5 separate regions of the Homo sapiens genome follow, and all the other regions are linked to region 1. Evidence: fine-mapped expression QTL. A gene starts in region 1. Each other region holds a variant in brackets. All regions are shown on one strand. Distances are from middle to middle.

Region 1 (5,107 bases):
TGTTACTTGTGGCGCTCTTCCTGCATGTCCCCACACCGTGTTTCCCCATGATATATGGTTTGGACTAAGTTAAGAAGCTAGTGCTAAATAAATGCTCCTCATTTCTTCTTTTCAAATGATGAACAAAACTTCTTTTCCAAAAAACAAAAGCTGAAAACAAAACGTGACAGTTCTTTTGTCTCAACTCTTCTTGCTAAGAACCTTTTAAAAGTGACAATCCTATTTTCTCTGTGTCTGAAAAGCATTTTAGAGTAATTCGTAACTTAGAGCAACTATGTAAGCCCCAGAATCCCATTGCCGACTGTGTGTTTTGCCCATAAATCTTCAAATTAGTCAAGCTTTGTCAGTTCAGAGCGGTGCAAAATAAATAATATTAATAAACATGAATCATTTCAAGTCATAGCATAAACCTGAAAATTTCTTCCCCCAAATAGATAATTTTTATACATCCAAAGGTGGAGTCTAATAAGGAAAGTTAGTAATGAAAATTGCTAACACTGAAATCTTGTGCTCATCTCTTTTCAGCAGTGTAAAATAGAATACTTTATCAAAATGGAACTGTCAATAATGTTCAATTTCCTTTAACAACTACACTCTAAATAGATTTAACTGGCTATTTCCTTCACACATTCTCAATGAGAGTATTGATTAGTATGAAAGAAATTGACAAATAATTAGAATCATATCCCCAAACTTCCTATCTATTAATCATAAGGAAACACAGAGGCTTGCTTAGGTCTCCCAGTTTTTTAATGATGACTTTCATTCATGTTTCTCAGAGAAACAAAAGAATATACTTCATATTATTTTGTATGTAACTCCTTTGCATAGCAATTCTCAAATATTAGTATTCATCAATAACCACTTTAAGGTTATATCATTAGAATTGTCTATGTTCTTGTCTTGTTATCAGTAATAAAACCATGAGAAATTCCCATCTAGTATTTCTGATGCTTTAGGGAATACTAAGTAATAGATTTGAAAAAACTTACAAGTGCCCTCTAATTACAAGACAGGATTAAGCTCCATGGAAATACAGCAGTGGAATAAGCTTTTCAACTTAACGGTTTTTTAAATACACTCTTGTTTTCCCATGGAAAGATGTTTAAAAATCATTATGATTCATGATAACCAATTATTTTGTTGTTTTTGGATGAGATTATTTTTATAGATTTATTGAGTTATAACTGACAACACATTAAATTGTTCATATTTACAGTAAACAATAAGTTTTGACATATGTTTGCACCTGTGAAGCTATAACCACAATCTAGATAGTGAATATTTCCATCATGAGACATAATTTTGAGTATGTCAAAAATGTAAAATTTTGGTGACCATCAGATTTCCAGGGATATCTGGCTTCAGGAGGCCATATTTATTGTTTAGTGAATGATTTTTCTCTAATTTATTGTCATCTTTTGAACATTAGTGCACTAGCAGAACAAAAGATTAGGCAGACTCTGGGCTTTTTCATTTTAGCATTATTGAGGAGCACCTGAATGGTCCTGAAGTTGGCCTTTGAATATACCAATGGACAGGTATGAAATCCTCAAGATGCGCATGGTGGCCAAGAGTCCCACAGTCTCACAGTGTGTGCGGTACCGTCTGCGCCCACCTTTCCTAGAGAAGAAACAGCAGAAAAACCTATTCCTTCACCCTGTGTGTTGTGGTGAATCTTAGTTTTTAAAGGCACATTATTTTATTATATAAACAACTTGGGAACCAATAAAACACAAGACATTTGAAAAGATGGGTCTTCGTATGGGCACAACATATGATAAGGCAAGTCACTTTCCTCCTCTGAGTTTGGGTTTATTTGCTGACTATCTTCCATTTTATCACAGTGAACTGTAAAGAAAAAGATGCAAGCTTCATGGAATGTCCAAATTCTGAAATACAACGGACTGCACAGACAGCTTATGATTAGGATGGCCTTGGCTCAGTGTTTCTGAAAGCAAATGTACAGCTTTTGTCCTTGCCTATTGACACCCTGTTTGCCCTCAGGGCTGGTCAGGGTGAGATCTGTTAAGCTTTTTTTGGAGGCTGTCCTGATAACTCATTTCTTTACTCCACTATTTTCAGGCCCATTCTGGAAACGCAGGATTTAACCGCGGGGTTGCAGCTTCCCTGGTCTCCATCTGCCATCAGAACCCATCTCCACCCCTTCCCCGTTCAGACCTGTGTCCCCTCCACAACTCATACTGGTCACTCTCAGAACTGTGGCCCTGAGTTCTCTAGCTTTCCCTCTTTGCCTCGGGACCCAGGACACCAGTCGGGGCTTAACTTTCTCAGTTGGGAAGGCGACGCTGCTGGTGGCTGCTGCTACTTGCTGGTTCTTCCTTTTTTTTCCTCCCCAAACGAGAGGAAGATTCGAGTGGATTTGGCACATCCCCTAACCGGGGCCTGCCATTTGCAGGTTGGGGGCTGACGTGCCCAGGAGGACCCGGACCAAGCAGGCCATTTTCACCTGCGTAATAACAGGATTGGGAATAGCGAAGCAGCGGCGGCAGCAGCGAGTGGAGTAGGAGGAGGAGCGCAGGCAGCGGCCGCGGCGGGGCCGGAGGAAGAGGAGGGGGGAGAAGGAGGAGCTGAAGCGGGAAGAGCGGCAGGCAGCGGCTCGGCGGAGTTGCAGCAGAGGCGGCGGCGACGCTGAGACACCGCAGCTTCCCTGAGCGCCGAGTCCCTCCGGGGACAGCAGCAGGGAGCGCCCGCGCAGCCACCGAGCCTCTGCCCAGCCAAGCCGCCGTCGCCGCGCCGGGGGACCGCCAGCCATGGCCGCGCCGGGGGATCCGCAGGACGAGCTGCTGCCGCTGGCCGGCCCCGGGTCCCAGTGGCTCAGGCACCGGGGGGAGGGGGAGAACGAAGCGGTGACGCCGAAAGGGGCCACGCCGGCGCCGCAGGCTGGGGAGCCCAGCCCGGGGTTGGGCGCCAGGGCCCGGGAAGCGGCGTCGCGGGAAGCCGGCTCGGGCCCCGCCCGGCAGTCGCCCGTTGCCATGGAAACTGCATCCACAGGTAAGGCGGGCGCCGCTGCCCCTCAAATGGCGTCGGGGACCAGGGCCCCCCAGTCAGTCCCCTTCTGCGCGGCTCTCCTGGGCACCTGCCTCGCGCTTTCTGCCTTGAGCGCCGACCCCACCCCCGCGTCGCCACGGGCGACTGGGAATATTCGCGGGCTGGTAGAAAACAACAATTTTATTTTTCCCAAAGGCTCAGAAAAAGTCAAGATGCTTTTGATCCTTTTATTTCATTATCATGATTATTTCCGCTTTAAAAATTGTTCTCATAGGCAAACAGCAGCATTCTGGCTGCTGGCGAGTCTGGGTACAAGTTTCTCCCTCCTGCCAGGAGGCTCCGAGCTGTAGGGCCCGTTTGACAGGTTGTGGGGATTTTGGGGGGCGTGTTTGCGCGCAGTGTGCGCGCCGGCTACAGGAGATGCTGACAACCGAGCGGCGGGCAGGCCCGCGGCCCCTGGACCCGGCTCTGTCCAGGGCAGAGATGTGGCTGTAACTGCCCCTTACCCTTGCCCTCCACGAATCGCCACCACACCTTACTCCCCCCACATCCCTCCGCCTTTTCTCCCGCAGAAAACAAATCCCAGGGAGTTTGTCCCTAATTCGGGAGGCACAGCTTTGCAAGAGGGTTGGGTGCTGTGGCTGCCCCCGCCCAAAACCTGTATTTCGCCGCTGCCCGGATGGCCCCACCTTGCAGGGAGCATTGAAACTTCAAGTCCTAAGTGCGGCGGGCCTGGCTGTGGGTTGGAGGGCTTGGGTGGTGGTGAGTGGACGTGGTACAGTTTACCAGCAGTCTAAGCGCCCCCCCCCCCCCACCCCGGAAATTGCCCTGGGTTTGGCCATTCTTCGCCTGACGCCCTATTCAAAGTCTGAGCGCGCCAGTGTCCAGCGGGAGCCCAGGCCCCTGGCGCATCCTGGTCAAAGGATCCAGGAAGCGCGCTTTGAGGCTGCCGGCCTGGTTAACGCTGTTTCCAGGGAGAGGAAAGGGGATGCTGTGTGGTGCTCTTTCCTGAGAAAGCTTTGCTATGGTGGAGTGGGAGTTGTGTAGTTTTGGCAATGTAGAGCTAGAAGGCCTGGGGTGGGGGGTGCTCCCAGAGGAGGGGAAGGGGAGTGGGACTGGTGTGTGTGCTCTTGGTGGTTGATTTAAAGAAACCCCTTTTCGTAAGCTTCTCTTAAGGGTTATGTGGAATGTCTAAGGTAATCGTAATTAACTGCCCTGGTACAGAAGATCTGAGCTGGGGAAAAGAGGTTTGGAGAATGCGTTGAATAAAAATTGTCAATATCCTGAAAGGAAGAGAAAAAGTGGAGACCCTATATAAGAAAAAAGAAAAAGAAAGAAAGAAAAGTACTCAAAAGCCCCAACGCCAAACGCCAAAGGTTATATATTAATTATTATATCCCTAGGAGTGGGGGAGGATTTAAATCTAAGAATGGCTGCTCAGTCTCTCTTTCAACTTCTGCATCCAAGTGAAAACAAAACTCTTTATAATTGCAAAAGAAGATGGCAAATGATAATAGACAAAGGAAGGTAGTTTTTGTCTTTACCATTCTTTGTTGAGGATAGACTGCTCATAGTTCAGAATCTTTATCCACTGTAATCAAAGTAAATTGTTTCTTTATGAAACATTACCCACCTCCTATTAGTGCCACTAAGATTATGTGAACTAGAAAAAGGAAGCTAAGTGCCCCATGCTCAGTAACATATCCACAAAAGTTATTATATAGGAAATGCTTAGAATATATATTTGTGGGGTACAGTGTGATGTTTTGACATATGTCTGCATTGTCAAATGATTAGCTAACAAATCCATCATCTCATGTACTTTTTTTTTGTGGTAAAAGCGTTTAAAATTTACTCTTTTAGCAATTTCAAAATGTACAGTGCATTGTTACAGAAAGGTGGCTGTAGTAAATAACAATGCATTTTGCATTTTTAGTATTATTATTATAGAAATACCTTGCTTTATTGAATGTGTTTGGGGTTTTCTATCCTAGGCAACAAATATAGTAATAAAATCAAACATGATACTACGTTTGGATGGGAGAAGAATGAAGAAAGATGGAAGGAGCACATATTTTGCATATTTATATAGAAA
Region 2 (5,107 bases), 190 kb after region 1:
ATGATTTGGAAATATTTAGATCAGAAAATAAGTCATTGTGTTAATACACAAAATTAATACTACCTTCATACAACTTTAAATGGATTAATTAACGTATTTTTCAGCTATATAAAAGCAAAGAGTTGATGCCAACTAGTGATTTCCAATAGAAAGAGAACATGAGGTTGAGTCTGGAATAAGCTTCAGTATAGGACCAAAATAATGCGTTAGTAAGGAGAAATGGGATTGGCAGATTCATACATCAACCATAGTGAATGTCACCAAATATCTTGTGTCAGTTGACTTTTAAATATTAACCGAGAACCAAAATGTCACTCCCCTAGGTACAAATCAAATTGCTTCTCCTTTCTTTTGCCTGCACTCTTAAATGCTGAATAACCTCATAAGTAAGATTTCTATTAGGCAAATTAGTGCATGCGTATTAGGAACCACAGTTTCTGGAGTGGAGTTCAGTGGGACTAACTATATTCCCTATGATTAGTCACTTTAATCATAGAATTATGAGGAAACTCATAAATTATCAAATCATATTCTCAAAGCCTTTTTTAGCAATGCTTAACCATGTGCTCTGTAAGTATACATTTGATTTTGTTCCCTAGAGACAATTGTTTCTGTTTTATGAAGTGTGAAACATTACTCATTGGCAATTATGAGTAACTTTTATACTTGTTAAGTTTTATTGTTGTGTTAATGTAAACAGAAACACTTGTGTTTGTTTCCATTTGTTCAATACACATTTATTAGGCATCTACTTTCGCCAGAAGCTGGGAGATACAAAGATGACCATGAGTCAGTTCCTGCCCTCTAGCAATTCAAAGGAGACATAGGTATAAACTTCAACAGCAGGAAAGGCAAGTGGAATCCTTCTGTGGGGGCAGAAGTAGTCTATCTACCCAGCAGCCAGCACAATGCATGGTATAACATTGGATGTGTAATAAATCTTGTTCAAATAAATAAAATAATCATGAGAAGATGTACCAGAAATAGTAATGCCATAAGGAAAGGAAGACAAATGGAGTTGAACCTTGAGCTAAGTCTTGAAATATGGAGCAGGTGAGAGAATTTCAGTTGAAGAAAAGAATGTGTGTAAAGTCCTCAAAGGGTGAAATAGCATGTGATTTCAGGGAATTAGGATAATTCCATTTTTCTGGAAAGTATGTCAGTGGCAAAGCCATGGGAGATGAAGATGGGGAGATGGGAAGGAGCCACATTAAAAAGCACATGCTGGATCTTCTAGCTTCTTAAAGGGTAGCACCATGATCAGATTTATGTTTAGAAAGATTTCTCCATGAGAAGGACAGATTGGTAACCAAAAGGATAGTTAGAAGATCACTAAAAAAATCTAGTGAGCAGTGACGAGGGTCTAAACTATAAACTAAAGCTGTAGCAGCTGAGAGGATGAATTTGGGAGAGATTTGGAAAGTAGAAATCAAGGTTTGAGGGTAGGGGAAGGGAACAGTGAGACAGAAACAGGAATCTGGGATGATCCTTGTGTTCTGATGTGATTAGCTGGATGAAAAAGAAGGCTGCTTAGTGGAACACGATCTGAGAAGGTGATACAGGGAAAATGAGTTCATAGATGCCTAGGAGACATTCAGGAAGATTTATTTAGTAAGCAGTTAGTGACCTGAACCTGGAACTCAAGAGCTAGGTCCAGGCTGGAGATTCAGAGCTGGTGGTACCCATGTCTGGTGGTAACTATGAGCATGAGTGAGAGAGCCCAGTGGAGAATACAGAGTATTAGTGACCCAGATTCATTATTTCCCAGTGCCTACTGCAGTGTGTGGTTTGGGGATGGAATTGATATGACACTCATCATTGATAATCATTATTGGAGCTAGAAAAAAGGGTTGAAAAAATAGTATGGAGAACATTTTGGCATTTTCAAATTACCATTTTTTAAGATTCAGAATGATTTTCTATTGAGAGACAGTTACTCATGGAATAAAACATATGAATCAAGAACCAAGTAAATTAAAAGCAAAGTAACTGACTTGTTTTTGTTAGAGGAAATATATGTTCATATGTCTAAATTAAGAATTGTTCATAGCAAATAATGCTTGGTAAGTTTTTGTTGGATTTGTACATGTGGAAATCTAAGATGTATTTAATAAATATGGAAATAATAAAATAGATTTGTAGTTTTATGAGCACTTAGATGAAAAGAGAAGCAGAGAAAAAAGAGAAAATGGGAAATAGAGATAGACACACACATACTATTAATATAGAAACTTATAAAAGACAAAATAACTGTAATCCATAATTCAACCACCACTGTCAAAATTTCAACATATATTCTATTATTATGTCTGTACATATTTTTGTATACTTGTTATGTTGGCTGTATAAATTCATATACTTCTTTTTTTAACTTGATATGATAAACATTTTCCCAAGTTATTAAAAACTCTTCATAAATATGGTTTTTCATGACAGCATAAAGATGCCTATCACTTTTCAGTTACTTAGTTACACATTCTCTATTGTTCAACATTTAGATTTTAGCTTTAAAAAACTTTAAATACCACTCCATTGAGTATCTTTGTTTATAAGGCTTTGTGTTCATTTCAAATTATTTTCTTGAGATAGATTTCTGGAAATAGAATTACCATACTAAAACATATGAACATTTTAAGGCTCCTATTGCCAAATTGTGTTTTAGAAAGATGATACAAATGTATACTTCCATCAGCTTTATGTGGCAATGCCTGGACACACTAAATAATACAGCATGCTATAAAGCCTTGTATTTGGGTTCATTGGGAAATTGGTAATTGGCACTAACCTTGTATTTTATTCAGTGAATTCACTGATTAGCTCAAATTAGTAAAGATAGACTTATTGTAAACAATGACAACTATCTCCTTTTTTATTTAACTTTTATGCAAAATAACTTTAAAATGGAATTCAAAACACACTTCCCTATATTTTGCATGGTTTCACTTGGAAATACTTCTCCAGAAGGAAAGAAATGCTTCTCTAACTGGTATGGAGGGAAAGAGGGATTGCTCTTTCCTTTTTAGTACTATTAAGCAACAATTGTCTATTTTGGAGGAGGTTTATGACTTCTTTCAAAAACAAAGTATCCCATTTTTTCCCCAGAGCAAAGC[T/C]CTTAGAAGGCAATAGCTAAGAGCTATGTTACTAACATGATTGTTCTAGGAGGAGCACTGCTCAGCTCCCATGGCAACAGGTACCATGGAAATAGACACACTTTGTCAGAGGTATTGTAAATGCTATTGGGTATGAGGGCAGTAGTTGCAGTGAAATTTCATTGTTGCTATGTTGTAGAGGTTGCACAACACACCAAGCCTTATTTAGATTCTGTTGATAAGTCTGACCTGGTTTTTAAGAAGTTCTATTTTTTTAAAAAAGAAAAACAAACCCCAACCCCCAACCTGTTAGACCTAAGATAAAATGAGAACAATTTGCAAGGTTCAAATTGTTCTGTATGGAAGCTCTGGAAAATTATATGCAAGTCTGTATGGAAGCTCTGGAAAATTATGATATTTCAGAGAACTGTGAACTTTGAAGTGTCTGTGGCAATAAGTGATAGGTTGAGTGTGAATAACTTAAATCCAGAAGTCATCCCCAGACTTCATTTGAGCTAAACAGTTCAGCTTCTTCTCATAGGTCAGGTCACTGTTAATTTTTGCAGTGACAATGATTAACAATGAAATTATTAAGAGTGATTACTAATATAACACCTGTTTTGTACTCTGCTGTTTTACTGTTCAACCCTTTTTAATAACCATTAAAAGGTACCTATGACTAGTACTATAAGCAGATTCATCCCACAGTTGGGGAAATTAAGGCATAGAGAAGAAATAAAGACCTCATGGTCTTAGCTGGAGAGAGGTAGAGTCTGGATTGAGAAAAGTTAGAGCTCCAGTCTCTAGCCTTATTTTACAAACATTGATACAATGGTAAAGATGAAACCTAAGTCAAAGGGTGTATGGGTTATCATTGGTGGCTCTGTTTGTTTAATAGATAACTCAATTTAGCAGAGAGGGCTGTACTATTGTTTCATTTCAGAGCACCTGTGCAACTTCTGATGCTTAAGAGGGAAATTGAGAATACTTCTCTAATTCATACCCAAGCCACCCTAACAATTACACATGATAATACTCAATACAAAATGTCAAGTTAGGGATTATCTTGGCCTTTTTCTAGTAGATTCCTACCTGTTCCCAGTCTTTTCCAGACACTGTCATCCCTCACAATCCAATCTGTCACTCTGCCAGGAGCCAAGAGGATTCAGATGCTATCCCTTGCTTTTTGAAATCACAGTTGAACTCAAGAACCCAACAGAGTTAGATACTAAGACCCTGCACCTGTATCTATGGTCCTTAAACTTATATGTGCATAAGAATTACCTGGATAGCCTGTTAAAAATGTACATTCTCAGCTTCCCATTCTGACTAAGTAAGCCTGGGGTGAGGCCCAGGAAGCTGCATTTTTAACCAACTCCCCCAGTGCTTCTGAAGCAGGTGGTCTGTGGTCACGCTTTGAGAAACCTGAAGATCAGCATGTCAGTCTGTTAAAGTCTCTTCCACACCAGTGAGCCTAAGGACAATGGGGACAGTGGAGGTTGAGGAAGGGGCAGTAGTGAGAAGGGAGGCCTGTACCTCTGTGCCTGGGAGCCCAGCAAGGAACCTTCAGCTCTTGAGGTCCCAACATGTGCTGTGGCCCACGCTGGACCTCAGTATGTGGGAAAAAGCAACCAGCTTTCAGAATTCACAAAGGATGAGGCACAAGGTAGAGAAACAGGGATGCTGCAATCTGCAATCTGAGTGCGCTGGCCCCTGAGTCAGTAAGAGTTGTCTGTAGATACCTAAATGTTTAAATCAATTTTCTTCTCTCAGACAGTGGAATCCAGAACATATATTAAAAAGAGACCACTTCCAGCCTGTAGGAAAAATGAAGTTTTGTAGCTCATTGATGGCTTCTTTCTTGCTGTTAGGAAGGCCAAGCCAGAGAAGCTAAAATGATTGAGCTAGGCCATTTTCGCATTAGCATTCAACCCTTAAATAAAACTTTGGAGAAAAGACCCCTTTTCACATTCCCCACGCACCCCTACCACCACTGCCTAAGCTTTGGCAGCCTTCCA
Region 3 (5,107 bases), 95 kb after region 1:
CAGTGAGCACTCAATGAATATTGGACGAATGCATGAATAGGTATGGTCTCAAGCTCTATCACTTACTGCGACTTGGACAAATCATTTAGCCCAGCAAATAGTGCTTCTTTATCTTAGAAAACAGAGTTTAAAATATCTATAGCACAGGACTTTGTGGGAATTAACAAAAGCCATTCATTAATTCAACACATAGCTTACAATATGCCATGATGAGAAAAAGCATACATGGTCCCTGCTGTCATGAAGCATACAATATAGTTAGAGAGAAATTAAAACAATCACAAAAATAAATATAAAATTACAACTGTGATTGAAAGCCATGTGGTGCCAAGAGAAGCCATGATAGAGGTAATGACCTGGTCAAAGAAGTCAAGGAAGCCTTCCTTCAGGAGGTGATGAGTGAGCAAAGATCTGGAGGATAAGACGGAGGTACTGAGGAAGGGGAAGGAAAGCATTTTTTTAAGCAGGGACAGCACATGCAAAAGCTCATTAGAAAACAGCACATTCAGGGAACTTAAAGCAACACAGTGTGCTTTGGATGCAGGGAACAAGAGTGAATGTGGTACAAAAAGAAGCTAAAGAGACACGTAGAGGCTGCATCATGCCACCCTGACTTGGCACAGGAGAGACACAGAGTAAATATTAGGGTGTTTTGTGTGTGTGTGTGTGTGTGTTTTGTTGTTTTGTTTTTTTTTTTTGTTGTTGTTGTTGTTGTTGTTGTTTTGTCTTGACTTGCTTCCGTTTTTGATTTCCAAAGACCTAGAAAGAAAAAGAGGGGAAAAGGTTATTATATTTTGCTGGAAATACAGTGTCAATCTCATGAAACATCCACACTTTCCCCAAGAAAGGAGGGACATCCCTTTGGTCCTAAGGAACTCCTGAAAAAAGGGGCAAAGGGGCTGGGATTCAGGGCCCAGCATTAAAACTTCCTTTAGCTGAACCAAAGAAACCATCATAAACTTCCATGTTACTCCAGAAAGAGATTGTTTGGAAGGAGTGCCACCAAGTCAATGGCCAAAGGGAAGAAGGGGCCAGCAGTAGGTACCACTCATGATCAGCACACACTTAAAAGGATACACTGCTAAAATGGTATGTGTGTAGCCTTGTTGCAGCTTTAGCAAATATAATCTGGTCTATTTCCAATTGATGAGTAACTATTATTGGGAGAAGAGGAAGTGTTGAGGGGTACAAAGTCTGTGGGTAAAGAAGAAAGACAAACAGTCAAACACAAAAGCAACCAGACTCCCAGGGATTTTAGAATATGTTTCTAAACCAAGAGAAGATGATGAATCATCATGCCTATGATCATGGTGTGCACCATTTGCTCTTCTCCAATAACACGGTATCGGACCAAAGACAGCACAAGGTAGAGTCTCTTACTCTTCTGCAGTACAGCCAGAATTTTATTACTGAGATTTCCATGCCTGAAGGACAACATTTGCTCATGCTGACATGTTCAGTCTTCCTAGGTGAGGGACATGTCACTCCGTAATGAACGCTTGCCTGTTGTAGCCTTTCAGTGATGGTAGGTGGATTATTTTTAGTTTAAGAGCTGTAACTCAATAAATAATTTAGAATATCTATGGGAGTTTCAGAGTACCAATTAATCTCACTCATGTCCCTCTGAGTTCTGAGCCAATCCAGTCAGATTGAAACCTACATTGTTGCTTTATTTCTGGTAAACTGAGTTGGAAAGCACAGCCTGGACTTGTGGTAAAATAGGTTTTTTACGCCTCCTCCTGAAATAAATTTTTCATCTGGTCCCCAGCAGAGCCTCCTACTGGATGAAGGAAAGGAGTGACATGAAGCTCCAAAGGAGCATCAGAGAGGGTAAGGGGAAGGCCCCACACAGCGGAGGAAGGCTAAACCTCTTCTGGTTGAGAACAAATGAGATAGAGAGAAGGGCTAAAAATCTCCTCACCAAACACTTTCAAGATGAACAAAGTTCCTATTTTTGAATGTCTTAGCCCATTTC[A/G]TGTTGCTATAATAGAATGCCACAGGTTGGGTAACCTATAAAGAGAAAAATTTATTTTCTATAGTTGTAGAGGCTGGGAAGTCCAAGGATGAGGCCTGCATTTGGTGAAGGCTTTACTGCATCATGGCATGGTGGAAGGCAGAAGGACAAGAGCATGAGAGAGCAAGAGAGCAAAATAGGGCCAAAGTTGCTCTTACAGCAAGCCCACTATCACAATAACTAACCCACTTCCACTATAACATTAATCCTTCATGAAGGCATGGCCCTCATGACCTAATCCACCTCTTACTAGGCCCCAGCTCCCAACATTGATGCATTGGGACTTCAGTTTCCAACACATGAACTTTGGGGGACACATTCAAGGCCCATAGCAATGGACCTTGTCAGGAAGAAGGAGAGAAGACAATGGCTCAGCAACATCATAATGTTGGCACAAGGTATTTATTCTCAAAGATACAATAGGCTTTTGACTACAGAGTAAAAAGTGATAGAAAATGACTAGGAAAGTGCTAGAAATGCCCTAAACTTTATTATAATATGACATTAATTGAATCATCTTTATTTCATTGTTAAATTATTAGATATTATTTATACGGATTGATCTCTGCTGCCCTTAATTTAAAACTTCTTATTTCTGGTTGTGAGAGGAACAGTTTAGACTTCAAATGGCTTCTCTTCTTTATTTCAGTTATTAGAGACAACTTTCTGCTGTATGAAAGAGTGATCTTTTTAACAAATCAGATGACCAGTCCACAATTGTTATTGCTTATCTGCAGAATGTATTAAAATGTACATGGAATAGAAGATGTACTTATAAAATACAGAGTGCAGAGTATTTTATTTTTGGTCTGGAGATGTATCATCTTGCTTTTCAGTTCAATTTCTGTTACTATGTGATCTTACTCTCACTATGCCTCAATTTTCTCATCTGTTAAATGGGAATAATTAATAGTACCTGCCTCATGGGGTTGTTGTAAGGATTGAGTGAGCTGATACTTGTAGAGGATTTAGACGGTGTATGACACAGGGTACGCAGTTTATAAGTATTAACTATCACCACCATTATGCAGTGAAGAAAGCTTCCAATAAAGAGGCATTGTGTTCAAAATACTGGGATAGGATTTGTCTAAGCTATAGTAATTCTAGCTCCTACAAAAAAAAAGGTCAAAAATGTATAATTCCTCAAAAAGAATAGAGGCTTATTTCTTACTCTCACATAAAGTCTAGAATTTGTGTTCCTAATTAGCAGGCAGCTGGCCTCAAAAGGTGATTCAGGGACCCAGGGTCCTTTCATGTTTGGGTTCTAGTACCATCTCTAATATGAGATTTTCAAGGTTTTATGGGACAGTGACATTCAGCCAGTAGACAGAAGATGAGAAACGTCTGAGATACTCCCCTCTTAACTCAGTCTAGAGATGGAACTTATCGCCTTTACAAGAGCAGTTTTCATGGCCCCATCTAAGAAGAGAGCTGGGAAATGTACTCCCTAGCTGGACAACTACATCCCGGTAATACCTTATAATGTGGCAGAGTGGCATGAATAGGTGGCTAGGAAGCCATCTCTGCCATAGATGTAAAGGAGGTTTCTGTCTGTTATTGCAACAGTTTTCCCCTGAAATGTTAATTCAGTCAAGCATTATAGAAGTGGTTACTTGGATGTTTTTGCCTCTTCACTTAATGAGAAAAAGACGGTACTTTAATCATCAAGAAATTGTTCAGAAGAGTGAGTTCTGATCATGTGGTCTCCTTGGGGAGATGTTGTGAGTTGGCTGTTGGCTGATTTTACCATACCACTCCTCAGTCTCAACTGTAGTAGTGGTGACTTATTGGGACTAGATTTATCCACACTGTTAATGGTTTATTTAGAAAGGAACATTAAGAATACACATATAAATATGAGATTCCAAATGAAAATTACTTACATTTCATTGGTTTCATGTGTTTTTATTTAAGGCTTTTAGGGAGGAGAAAGCAAATTAAAGAACTGGACTATTTTGAACTGATTTTGATCAGTGTGGAGTGAAATTGCCAAGTAGCTTTCAGACATATTTTTGGCCTGCATTATTTGCCTAATTACTTCAGCTCTCAATTTTGCCCGTGTTGACACAGCTAGAACAGCAGGCAACACAACTGAGACTGCAGAAGTTGAAAGAAACCAACCCTTCAGAGCCAAATTATAATAATCTATAGTGTTGTATAGATTATAAATCATTTTTACACTTTAATTCAGAGTCGAGTCCATGTTCTTACAAATGGAATGCAGAATGTTTTGGGGACAAAAACTCAGCATGTTAAACAGTCAGTTTAGTAAGAGATTCACATTCTTTGCCATAGAAAAATAAAGAGCTGTGCCATCATTAACTCAGCAGTTGCACTGTGTTTTAATTCTGCTACTTAAAGCATCTCTTTCATGTAAGTGGAACTGTCAGTCCACTACAGACACTCTTTACCATAATGTGGATACTTGCCCAAATTTGTAAATCTGGCATTCTATTTCACAAACGTGGATGCAGTTTTATCCTAATTTTTCAATAATGGATAAATAATAAACTCTAATCACATGAAAGAGAGAAAAGAAGGCATATATGAATGAAATGTCCAGATAATCTAAAATATTCCTTTTAGTCACTATGTTTCCCTTTCTGAAAGGGTCAAAAATGAAGAGGATGGGTTGAATATTCATTTCTTTTTCTGTCTCATGTCTTTTTCTTTCATCTTCTCTTGTTTAGGATAATTAATGAGATGATAGAAACCAGGGTAGAAGAAAGACAGTAAGCTTTAAAAAAGCCAAAATAAATCAGCTCTTGAATAATTGAAAAGAGGCAGTGTATCCCATACACTTTTAACATCATGCTCTTTCCCCCATTAAATCTCAGATATAGAGTTATGAGTTGGTAACTCAGGTGGGGAAACTGTCTTTAGGAGATTCTTAACTTGATGGAAAGACTGCATCTGATTCTCAATTATGGAAAATTGAGCTTTCAGAAAATACTTAAAGGCTTAATGGAAATTAGAATATTTGTCATCTGTAAATAAATATTGCTGTGGTTAAAAATAAGTTCTGTCTTTTTTGTGCTGATTTATTTATCAGAAACTAACTTTTTAAAGTCATCAGAAGATATGTAATAGACA
Region 4 (5,107 bases), 21 kb after region 1:
TCATGGCTCTACCAGTAGACAGTAGCTAATCTCAGCCTCTGAGAAGGGCTTAATGATGGGTCTATGTGAATCTTCATTGCCCAGATAAGTGATGCATCATCATTTGTGTATTTACTGAGTCTGTGTACACTTCAGTCGCTGCCAACGTTTTTGGAACCAAATGGTATTTTAAGTAGATTAGGCAACAGTCTTTTACCATTATTATTAGGAAATGCTTGGGGGTGGGACTAGGAGATGATGTTAATTCTCCCTCTAAAAATCTCCATCAGTCATCTAATGCCACCCTAAATAAATATGTATTCTTCAATGTGGAAAATCAGTTTTTTTCTCAATTTTATGTAAAGTGTGCATATGATATTTTAAAAAGTCTGCTCTACTTTTATTTATATATGAACATACCATCAAAGTAAAATCAGAGTGCTTCTCATGCAAATGCAGCTTCAAAATAAGTCAACTGACTTCTCTAACTAGATTGTAGCCCCTATGTGCCATTATACGTAGAAAATTTGGAGTGGCCACTACTTACTATACTATCAATTTGTTTAGCAAACCTTTTATTATAGATAATACAAGAGTAAATTGCAGCCCATTATGTTTGAATTACCAGAATTGAACTTCTGTGAGTTTATTTTAAATTGAATCCGTGGTGTTAGAGAACTGTTCCTATTTTACCAAAAGTCTGGAAAGAGCAAATGCCTAATACTGCTTTCTAGAAATTGTACAGTATTTTAAAACCGAGCAGTTCTGTTTACAGTTTGGATGTTTGCATATCAATTCTCAGAAATAAGAATTGGTTTATTCTTTTTTTTTTTTTTTTTTGAGACTGTGTCTTGCTCTGTTGCCAGGCTGGAGTTCAGTGGCACAATCTTGGCTCACTGCAACCTCCACCTCCCAGGTTCAAGCGATTCCCTTGCCTCAGCCTCCCGAATAGCTGGGACTACAGGCGCTTGCCACCACACCCAGCTAATTTTTTGTATTTAGTAAAGACAGGGTTTCACCATGTTGGTGAGGATGGTCTCGATCTTTTGACCTTGTGATCTGTCCGCCTTGGCCTCCCAAAGTGCTGGGATTACAGGCGTGAGCCACCACGCCTGGCCAAATTGGTTTATTCTTATGAATAACATTAAGGAACAAAAAAAAATCATATTTTTAAGAAGAGAAGTAATATACTTTCTAGAGAAATAAGCCCCAGACATCCCCTGTTTTGAAAGTGAATGTGCTGTTAAGGCTCTTTGTGTTGCTTTTATTTTTTAAGTATAGTAATCTGCTCTGTGCTTATTTAACCCCTATGTGGTATAATAACTCCCAGGAGCATTGGTTTCTAAAAGGAGTCTTTAACAATCTGTTAAAATGAAATTCTCTGCCATTCTGCCAGACAGAAGACATCAAGGTCAACCTTTAAGTGTATTATTTAACACATAATGATTGTGTTTCCTAACAATAATGATTATGTTTCCACTGTGATCATTTGTGTGAAAATGTCACACAACGTTTATTGAAAGATATTGAATGATATGCTCCATGTATTATCACGTCAATATGAATCTTTGGAAGCATTATTTTCTGTTTAGAAAAGGGAAAGTTGGTACATAGGTTGATCACAACAGCCTGGAGTTTTTTTGTTTTTGTTTTTTCTATGAATGACCCTGCACTGCAGGGGGAAAACAATCAGTAGACAACTGTATATAAATAAAACTGAAAATTCAGTCAACTTTCTTAGTGAAATGGAAATGCTCAACTCCACAGCCTTGTTTTAAAATTGTAAAAACAGTGATAAAAGAAACTTTTGCAAGAGAAAAAAACCTACCCATGATCCCACCCCCTTTGCACATTCTTAGTGCCCATGTGATGGTTTGAGGATTCAGTGAGCTTCTTTGAAGTGCTTGGAACAGTGTTTGAGACATAGTAAGGACTGTATAAATATTTGCTATTTTTATTGTATTCTCTATCAATTATTGTTATTTGCATAATAACCACTAACCTCCTTCAAGTGGTTTAGAATGGATGGAACACTGACGTCATTTATTGAGTGACCCCCATTTTTACATTTGTAGAATCTGAGCAAGGCCAAAGCCATATCTCTGACACCTGAGTCTCATGCTCTCTTTATTATACTCCCTGGCTTTCTGTCTTCGAAATGTATATGGTCCTCAATTTAAAATAGCTTAAGATTTTTAACTTTACAATGGTGCAAAAGCAATATGCATTCAGTAGAACCTGTACTTTGTGTACCCATACAACCATTCTGTCTTTCACTTTCAGCACAGTACTCAATAAATTACATGAGGTCTTCCACACTTTATTATAAAATAGGCTTTGTGTTAGATTATTTTTCCTAACTGCAGACTAATGTAAATGTTCTGAGCATATTTCAGATAGATGAGGCTAAGCTATAATGTTTGAGATACATTGTGTTTTCAACATATGATATTTTTAATTTATGACTGGTTTATGAGGATGTAACCCCATTATAAGTTGAGGAGCACCTGTATAACATAAGGGAAAATAGAAGTGTCCTACAAGACAACAAAGCCAGGACATGGAATTCAGCTTTACTTTGCAAAGAGGAAGAAAGTAATGAGTGTCAACTGAAGAGACAGGAGAAGAGACACCAGAAGCAGAAGTGAGGGTGAAGAGAGGAGCAATGGGGCTGGGAAGAGGTGGCGGTGAAAGGAGAGGCTTGGCCCCTGGAATGGACACAAAT[A/G]GACAAAAAGGAAGAGGAAGTGGAGGAATTCAGAAAACAGGAAAGAGAGTTAACAGAGAAGTACACAGAGAGGGGGAAGCCCTTTGAGGAAGCAAAAGTAAAAAAAGGAATGGATTTATGAAGAAGAGGAAAAGAGAAGTAGTTAAGAAGACTTGGCTAAATTCTAGAACCTGGAGTAAGTGAGAGTGGGAGTTCTTGGCTTTACTTCCCTTAGAAATTGTAATTCACATGTTTATGATTGCTTAGATCCTTAAACCAGGAGAAACTTCTATAAGTGGGGTGACTCCAGCAGGCCACTGGGGCTCAGGAGTAGGAGCCATTCTTGGGGTTCTGTACAGGGCCACCCAAAGCTTTCTCACCCCCAGCTGAATGAAATCAATCAGTGGGCTGAGTCAGGCCTGTGGGCTGAAATGTTCCTTCCTCAGTATGGGGATTTTCCAAAAGACTCATATTAACTTTATCTAAATGGAGAAGAATTTAGCTGAGGGTTTTCCCTCAGATATAGGGGTGTATTTATATACTTTTTCTCTTATGCATGACTAGCCTGGAGATTTGCAAATGCAGTGTTTAGATAGCAATATCAGGGAGTTAATTGGTTTTTCTTTTACCATGCTCAAATATGAAAATGTACTCTATACTTTGGGGAACAGGGAGTAGTTAAGGAAAAGAGAGGAAATAGATAAAAGAGAAAGAAGTTGACATGTATTTAGCACCTAGTGCTAGGCAGGCAGGTACTGTGATAAACACTTTATATACCTTCTTAGATTAGCTTTATGATCTAATGGCCTATTGAATATATAGCAGGGTATTGAACTATGATTTGGTTAATCTAAGTAGGGGTGACAACTAATTTGCATAATTCTATTGTTTCCAACCAAGGCCATAAACTACATATAGAAAAGGAGTCTTCCAGCAACTTCCTGCTAAGTTGATGAGGGGGATGAGATATTGGGGTTCAAGTTATAGCTGGTAACAAATGTGCATTTTCAGGAAAGTAAACCACATATTCTTCCCGGGGGGGTGGGGACTATTGAAATAGATAGCTAAGGATTTGGAGTCCTTCCTATCCTTTCATCAGTGACGATTTGTGTACATGGACTTCGTACTGTATCAAGTGAATTAATGTTTGATTTCCTTGTCTAGGCAGAAATTCCCTTGAGGTAGAGGTTGTGTCTCCAATAGTCTCTATAATTCCTTGCAGACAGCCAAGCATATAAGCACCAGAGTTTTATAATTTAGTGGTGTATTTTTTTCTTTGGTTACATAAAATAGTCTTAATACCATATTGGGATCATAGCACATTTTCAAAAACTTTCAAAGTTCACAGAATCAATGACTATTCAAAGCCTTTAGAAGCAGGATTTGGATCTTTTATGTATGACTCATATGGCCAATCTTAAATCAATTACAGTGTAAATTCTTGCTCCTATTTATATGAGTTATAAGAATAATCAGCAAAAACCTTCATATGTTATATCACTTTGAATTTCTTTTAAAACTCTAGCATGCTAACTTAAAAAATAAAACAATTCTTGACAGTTATGATTAAAACTATCTGATGATAAAGGAATTCTGTTAACATTTTAAAAATTAATTGGATGAATGTCCTTGATATAGCATTCAATTATCTTGAGAATTTATATAATAAAATGCAGTAGTTTGTGCTGAGATTAATTTGACACAATTGCCATTAACAACCCTTCCTTCTTAGCACCTAGCAGTTCACCTGCATGCTCTGCCCTCAAAAAGGGGATGCTACATTCAGGTGGTGACCATTACAAGTTAGATCCTACTTTTCTGTAGATAAAAGGCATAATAATGGTGAATTGATGTTTCATTAGTTTGTGGAGAGGAAGACTTTATGGTCTCTTCAACTCTAGGCCTTCAAAATCTGAGCCATTACTCAGATGAAAGATGAAAGTGGTTGCTAAGATGAAAGAGGCTCTAATGAAGTGGGGCTTAGAAGCAGGTTTGGGCCTGGTGAGAAAAATTATTTCAGGTCTCCAGCAGAGTGGCCTGGCTAAAAGTCTTCACGTGGGATTTGTAAACAAATTCGGGCCCTGAGCCCACTTCCTGACTGCTGGGCTGGGCAATCTGTGCCAGCTTCCTCTGCAGTCTCTTCATATGCAGGAAAGGCTGTGGGTTCAGGTGTTAGAGCTATTCCAAAAAGCATGTAGCATGAAGCAGGGCGTTCTCCATCACTGGAAGGGTCCAAGCAGAGACTTCATGATCACTTACCAGGGAGGTTTAGAAGGAGGCATATTTTTTAAGTGGGAAGTCGAACTTGATCACTTCAAATGTTCTTTGTATTCCTTTTGTCAGGATTCCATGATTTTATGATAGAAAGCAGATAATTGTTTTGCACCAAGTCCTGTGAATGACTAGAAAATGACACACATTTTA
Region 5 (5,107 bases), 34 kb before region 1:
AGATTCTAATTGGAATGCAAGTGGAGATGGTAAGTAGGAAGTTGAACTTAGGAGTCTGGAGTTCATGGGAGAGTTCCAGGCTGGAAATATATATTTAGGGTCATTAATATAAAGATTAATAAGACTGAACGAAATTGCCAAAAGAATTAGTGTGGGTAGAAAATAGAAGAGGTTGAAGACTGAACTCTGGGGAACTTGAATATTTAAAGGTCAGAGAGATGATAAGGAACCATCGAAGACTGAGTCCTAGCCAGAAAGGTGAGATAAAATCCAGGAAAGGGTGGTGTTCTAGAAGCCAAATGAAGAAAATAGAGTGATAATAGGTCAAGGAAGATGAGGACTAAGAATTGAAGTTACTGATGCTGCTGAAAAGAACAGTTTCTATAGAGGGGATTCAAGAAGAATGGAAGAAGATGAATCGGAGACTGTGGGTATTATAGGCAGCTCTTTCAAGGAGATTTGCTCTAAAGGAGGAAGAGAAATGGGGCAGATGCTAGAGAGGAGTAGGGTCATGGGAGTATTTTTTAATATGGAAGAATAAGAAGATGCTTTTATGCTAATGGGAGTGATCCAATAGGGAACAAAAATTATTCATGATAGAGGGAGAATTGTTGGAGCAATGTCCTTGAGGAATTGATAGAAGATGGGTGTGCACAGGTCACAGGGTTAGCTTTATCTCAGAGCTTGGGCAGGAGAGAGGGCAGTCAATGGGCACAGAAGCAGATAGGTAGATATATGTGGTGGTGGTGGTGGTGTGTAGAAGCCCTCTTGTGGCCTCAGTTTTCTCAGTGAAGTAGAAAGCAAGGTCATCTGAGAGTAAGAATATGAAGGGAGGTGGAGGTTTCATGACAGAAGAAAAAGTATAATTTAATGGTCCAGGAAAATGGGAGAGTGAATGGACTAGGTAAATAGAATATGATTGCCTGGCTGCATTACTCTCTAGTGAGTTTAACGATCAGGAATGTAAGGTGAGATCAGTCAGTATGGTTATGATTTTTCTCCATCCACCTTTAGCTGTGTGTATGCCTAGTACAGAGGACTGGGAGAGTTAGATTTAACCAAGGATGGGATTTAACCAAATGTATGCAGCAAAGTAAAAAAGGGGGAGAAGTATTGAGGATGTATCCATGTGGAGGTCAATAATGGCCTTGGAATTTAAGCTGGAAAGGAATGTGACTTCATGCGGAAAGTAAGAGAGTAACCTGGGTTGATCAGTGGATGATACATAACCAGTGGAGACAGTGTTTTAGTCTGTTTAGTGTTGCTGTAAAACAATACCTGAGGCTGGGTAATTTATAAAGAAAAGAAGTTTATTTGGCTCATGGTTCTGCAGGCTGTGTGAGAAGCATGGTGTCTGCATCTACTCTTGGTGAGGGCCTCAGGCTGCTTATGGTGTAAAGCACAGGGGAGCTGGCATGTGCAGAGACCATGTGGTGAGAGAGAAGCAAGAAGGAGCGTGGGGGTTCTAGGCTCTTTTTTAACAACCAGCTCTCATGGGAACTAATAGAGAACTCACTTACCTTCCCCATGCAGGGAAGGCATTAATCTATTCATGAAAGATCTACCCCATGACCCAAACACTTCACATTAGGCCCCACCTCCAACACTGAGGATCAAATTTTGACATGAGATTAGGAGGAGACAAACTATAGGAGGCACACAAGAAAACCCAAATTCTGAGCATTTCATAGGTCAAAGGCCTAATTACCTCTTACTTCCTCATCTCCCACATCCCACTTTGCAGAAATTCCTTCATTCACACCAAACTCATCATTTTCAGAGCATTCCAAGGCTTTTCACCACACTATCCTTTCATATCCACTAGTCCCTAGGCCTCAATGCTTTTCTTTTTCCCTTTCCACCAGCCTATCTCTATAACTAGTTTTCAACTGTCTCCTCTTTTTCAAAACTTTCTCTCAATATATCCCAGCAGGGTGAGCCTTTTTCCCTTCCCAACTTGTCCACTCAGATCTTGACTCATGCTTCCATAGAGCCCATAGGGTCAGTCTCTTGAACCAGGCTGTGAGCTCTTTAATGAGTCAGGGCCACGTGTTATTCATACTTGCATTTCGGTGGCATTTAGCAAAATAGAAACCTAAAAGTAATGCCTTAATGAATTAGTAAGTGAATGGATACTATCAGGGTGCATTATCATCAGCTCAGTTTAGACCAACATTTTGCAAACCTGTCTGATTATTTAATCACTTGTAACTTGTAGAAATTTGTTTAAGTTTCTAAGAATATAACCCAGAGAATATCATTTAGTAGATTTACAGAGAGGTTTATAAGCTTCTGTTTTAAAAATTCCCCAGATGCGTTTAGTAATCAGTCCTATTTGAAATATCCTGGCTAATTATCAACCTTTAACTAGAAGCTGATTCAATGAAGAAGAAATTAGCCTCTTTATCCTTTAACTTTACTTAGAAAAATACAAGTATGCTTGATAAAAATGTTCATTTTCCCACTGTTCTTTTTTCCCCCGAAGCTGGTAAATGACTTTACAGTTAAGATGTCCTAATTGACAATGTGTAACTTCTAGGAGTCCTCTTATGGCACAATTTCCAGCTGTGTGACAAATCTGTGAATGAGGGGTGTGTGTGTGTGTGAGAGAGAGAGGGAGAGACAGAGAGAGAGAGAGAATTTATTTATTAATCTAGATTTTTT[G/TG]AAGTTAAGTGAAGAAAACCCAATTCAAAAAAGCTTACATTTTTAAAAAATCCATTGGCTTTCATAAGCAACAGGTTAATTTCCAGGGGTAGGATTGGCTTTGGACAAAACTGTAGATCTAGGATTTATTCAAGTGAAATATTGGGACTCAGAAGGTTTCCATCATTCTGATTTATTTTTTGGCTTTATTTTTGGAAAGGAACATCTGCAGGTAGTTCCAGGATTACATTCTGCCTTTTTTTAAACCCTAAAGGAAAGAGGATGCCCTTTTCCCAGTAGTTTCAAAACAAGTTCTAGGATTCAGGCTGATTGGTCTAACGTGGGTCAGATACTCAATAGAATGCTCTGATTGGCTTGGGCTGAGGGGTGGGGTCAGTGCCATCAGACTCCTATGTACTATAAGAGGAAGAGGGTGAATTTCATGAAGGAGAACTAAGGTGTTCTCACCAGAAATGTGGAGTGCTACGAAGGCAAAAACAACAGATGTCCACTGTAGCCAACCTTATTTAAATCACAATGTGTAGGGAGGGTATTACCCCACAGACCCCTAAACCAGTACTGCTTTGACTTTGTAGAGATTTATCCTCATCCTTTTTCTATCTGTAGCATTTTACTATAAAATATTTGAGAAATTAACAGAGTGAATGTGAGACTTCATTGGCCCACATTTCTTGACTTGGAGAAGCTAATCTACTATAAGACTAAAAATACTGGGGATTTTCTTCTGTTTTCATCTGTTTGTGCCCCGAACTAGTAGTGGGAGGGAGCAATTTTGCCTGAGTGAATCTCCTGCACAAACCCGGACTTTCTCTCCTGTGGGTTGTTGCAAGTTCTAGTGGGAGTAGAGAATGTTAGTGAGCCCTTTTCTCTACAGATTTACAGTCATATTTTCCCAATGGCTTTTTCAGTAATAAAGCTGATTTTTAAAAATCTCAATTTATCTGCCTCATGTCTTATTCCCAGTTGCTTTCAAGCTTGGAGGGAAAAAAGGAGGGGAGGGGGTTATTATTTGCTTTCTAAAGCCTGACTCTGTACTTGAGTTAACTGTATTTTTATATAATCCAAATGTTGAAACTTGAAATGCATATTGACTTTCCAAAAACCAGAATATTCCATTAGTCAAAATAAAGAATTCCCTTTCCATTTGGAAAAAGTAAAAGTTTGCAATACTTTACTGCACACCCATTTCTTAGTCATATGTATATAAAAATGACAGTATCTGTAGAAGTTAGAGCCAGCCTACATAGAAACAGTTGCTTTACAAACCATAGCTCATTTGTATATGTGTGCACTTGACAAGAGGTCTTGGGAAAGAGGTGCATCACTGTTATTAAATATAGAGAGCTTTGAAACAATTATTAGTGTGGTCAGCCCCATTTTGCTAGCTATGCCAGAATGATCATTTTGCTAGCTATGCCAGAATGAGCCAACCTGCAAATTCTGCCATTGAGAAATAGAATTTAATTGTGCAAATACAAGAGGAACTTAGCCAAACAGACTACTAAGTTCCAAATAACTTTAGATAACCTTCTTAAATCAGACCGATGACATCAAAAATAATGCCATTAATGCCCTTGAAAACAATAGTAAATACAATAAAAGCTTATTTTATATATGTATAATAGAATGTATCATATGTATTTGCATTTGTATATGTGTATTTATATATACATATAAGAATTTTACTTAATATAGTGGGTTTTGTATTAGTTATCATAGTTTTAAAATTGTGTTTTGGAGACATTGTACATTAATTTCATTTTTGTCTTAAAACAGAATTACAGTTAAAATCATCCAAGATACACTTTCTTTGGAAGATATATTAACAATCTTCTATTCTTGTTTAAAAAATACCTGCTGGCATGACATTCACCCCATGCCTGACCTAAATCTGAAATGCTATAGTGTCTGCCTTCTTTGTCCTTTTTGATCTTCAGTGAAGACAACTACTGACTTGATATCTATATTAAAAAGCTTATATTCTAGATCAATGTTCAATAGAAATAAAATGTGAACTATTACATGTAATTCTAGATGTTTTATTAGCCACAATAAAAGTAAAGATAGATGAGATTAATTTTAACAAATATTTTGACCCAACATAAGACAATATTATTTCAACACATAATAAATGTAAAAAGCTATTAATTAGCTATTTTTGTCTTTTTTCATACTAAGCCCTCAAAATACAGTGTATATTTTATACTTACAACACACCTAAATTCAGTCTAGCCACATTTGAAGTGCTAAAGACACATGTGAATAGTGGCTACCATATTCAAGTATGCAGTTCTAGGTGATTGTTTTTAATTTTTTCATTTAGAATTTAAATTAATATTTGGTTTTAATTTGGTGACAGAAAATCAGAAATAATCATGACTTTATAAAGATAGAAGTTTATTTATATCTTATACAAAGTTGGGAGGTAGTGGTCTGGGTTAGC

Which allele goes with the higher level. Alleles are on the strand shown, and positions count from the first base shown. SD is a standard deviation of normalised expression in the study named. Not every link is listed here.
As copies of C replace T in region 2, the expression in tibial artery of the gene that starts at base 2,629 in region 1 goes up (large effect, 0.77 SD a copy in GTEx).

The links. PIP is the estimated chance that this variant, and not a neighbour inherited with it, causes the effect.
Region 2: its variant is fine-mapped to the expression of RTN1 in tibial artery (GTEx, PIP above 0.99). The same link has a PIP of 0.9 or more in aorta and coronary artery.
Region 3: its variant is fine-mapped to the expression of RTN1 in whole blood (INTERVAL, PIP 0.99).
Region 4: its variant is fine-mapped to the expression of RTN1 in whole blood (TOPMed, PIP above 0.99). The same link has a PIP of 0.9 or more in blood mononuclear cells.
Region 5: its variant is fine-mapped to the expression of RTN1 in whole blood (TOPMed, PIP above 0.99).

The regions. Positions count from the first base shown.
Region 1 is chr14:59,868,298-59,873,404 of GRCh38, reverse strand. RTN1 (reticulon 1) reads left to right here and starts at 2,629. Exons shown (of 9, transcript NM_021136.3): 1 at 2,629-3,015. The coding sequence starts at 2,775. RefSeq lists a silencer at 2,621-2,720.
Region 2 is chr14:59,678,178-59,683,284 of GRCh38, reverse strand. The region is part of intron 3 of RTN1 (reticulon 1); the gene reads left to right. Among named protein-coding and RNA genes, the nearest start is that of MIR5586, 34 kb to the right of the region's middle. The variant T/C (reference allele first, on the strand shown) is at 3,111.
Region 3 is chr14:59,773,414-59,778,520 of GRCh38, reverse strand. All of the region lies in intron 1 of RTN1 (reticulon 1), which reads left to right. Among named protein-coding and RNA genes, the nearest start is that of RTN1, 95 kb to the left of the region's middle. The variant A/G (reference allele first, on the strand shown) is at 1,976.
Region 4 is chr14:59,847,568-59,852,674 of GRCh38, reverse strand. The region is part of intron 1 of RTN1 (reticulon 1); the gene reads left to right. Among named protein-coding and RNA genes, the nearest start is that of RTN1, 21 kb to the left of the region's middle. The variant A/G (reference allele first, on the strand shown) is at 2,705.
Region 5 is chr14:59,902,295-59,907,401 of GRCh38, reverse strand. No RefSeq gene overlaps it. Among named protein-coding and RNA genes, the nearest start is that of LRRC9, 15 kb to the left of the region's middle. The variant G/TG (reference allele first, on the strand shown) is at 2,665.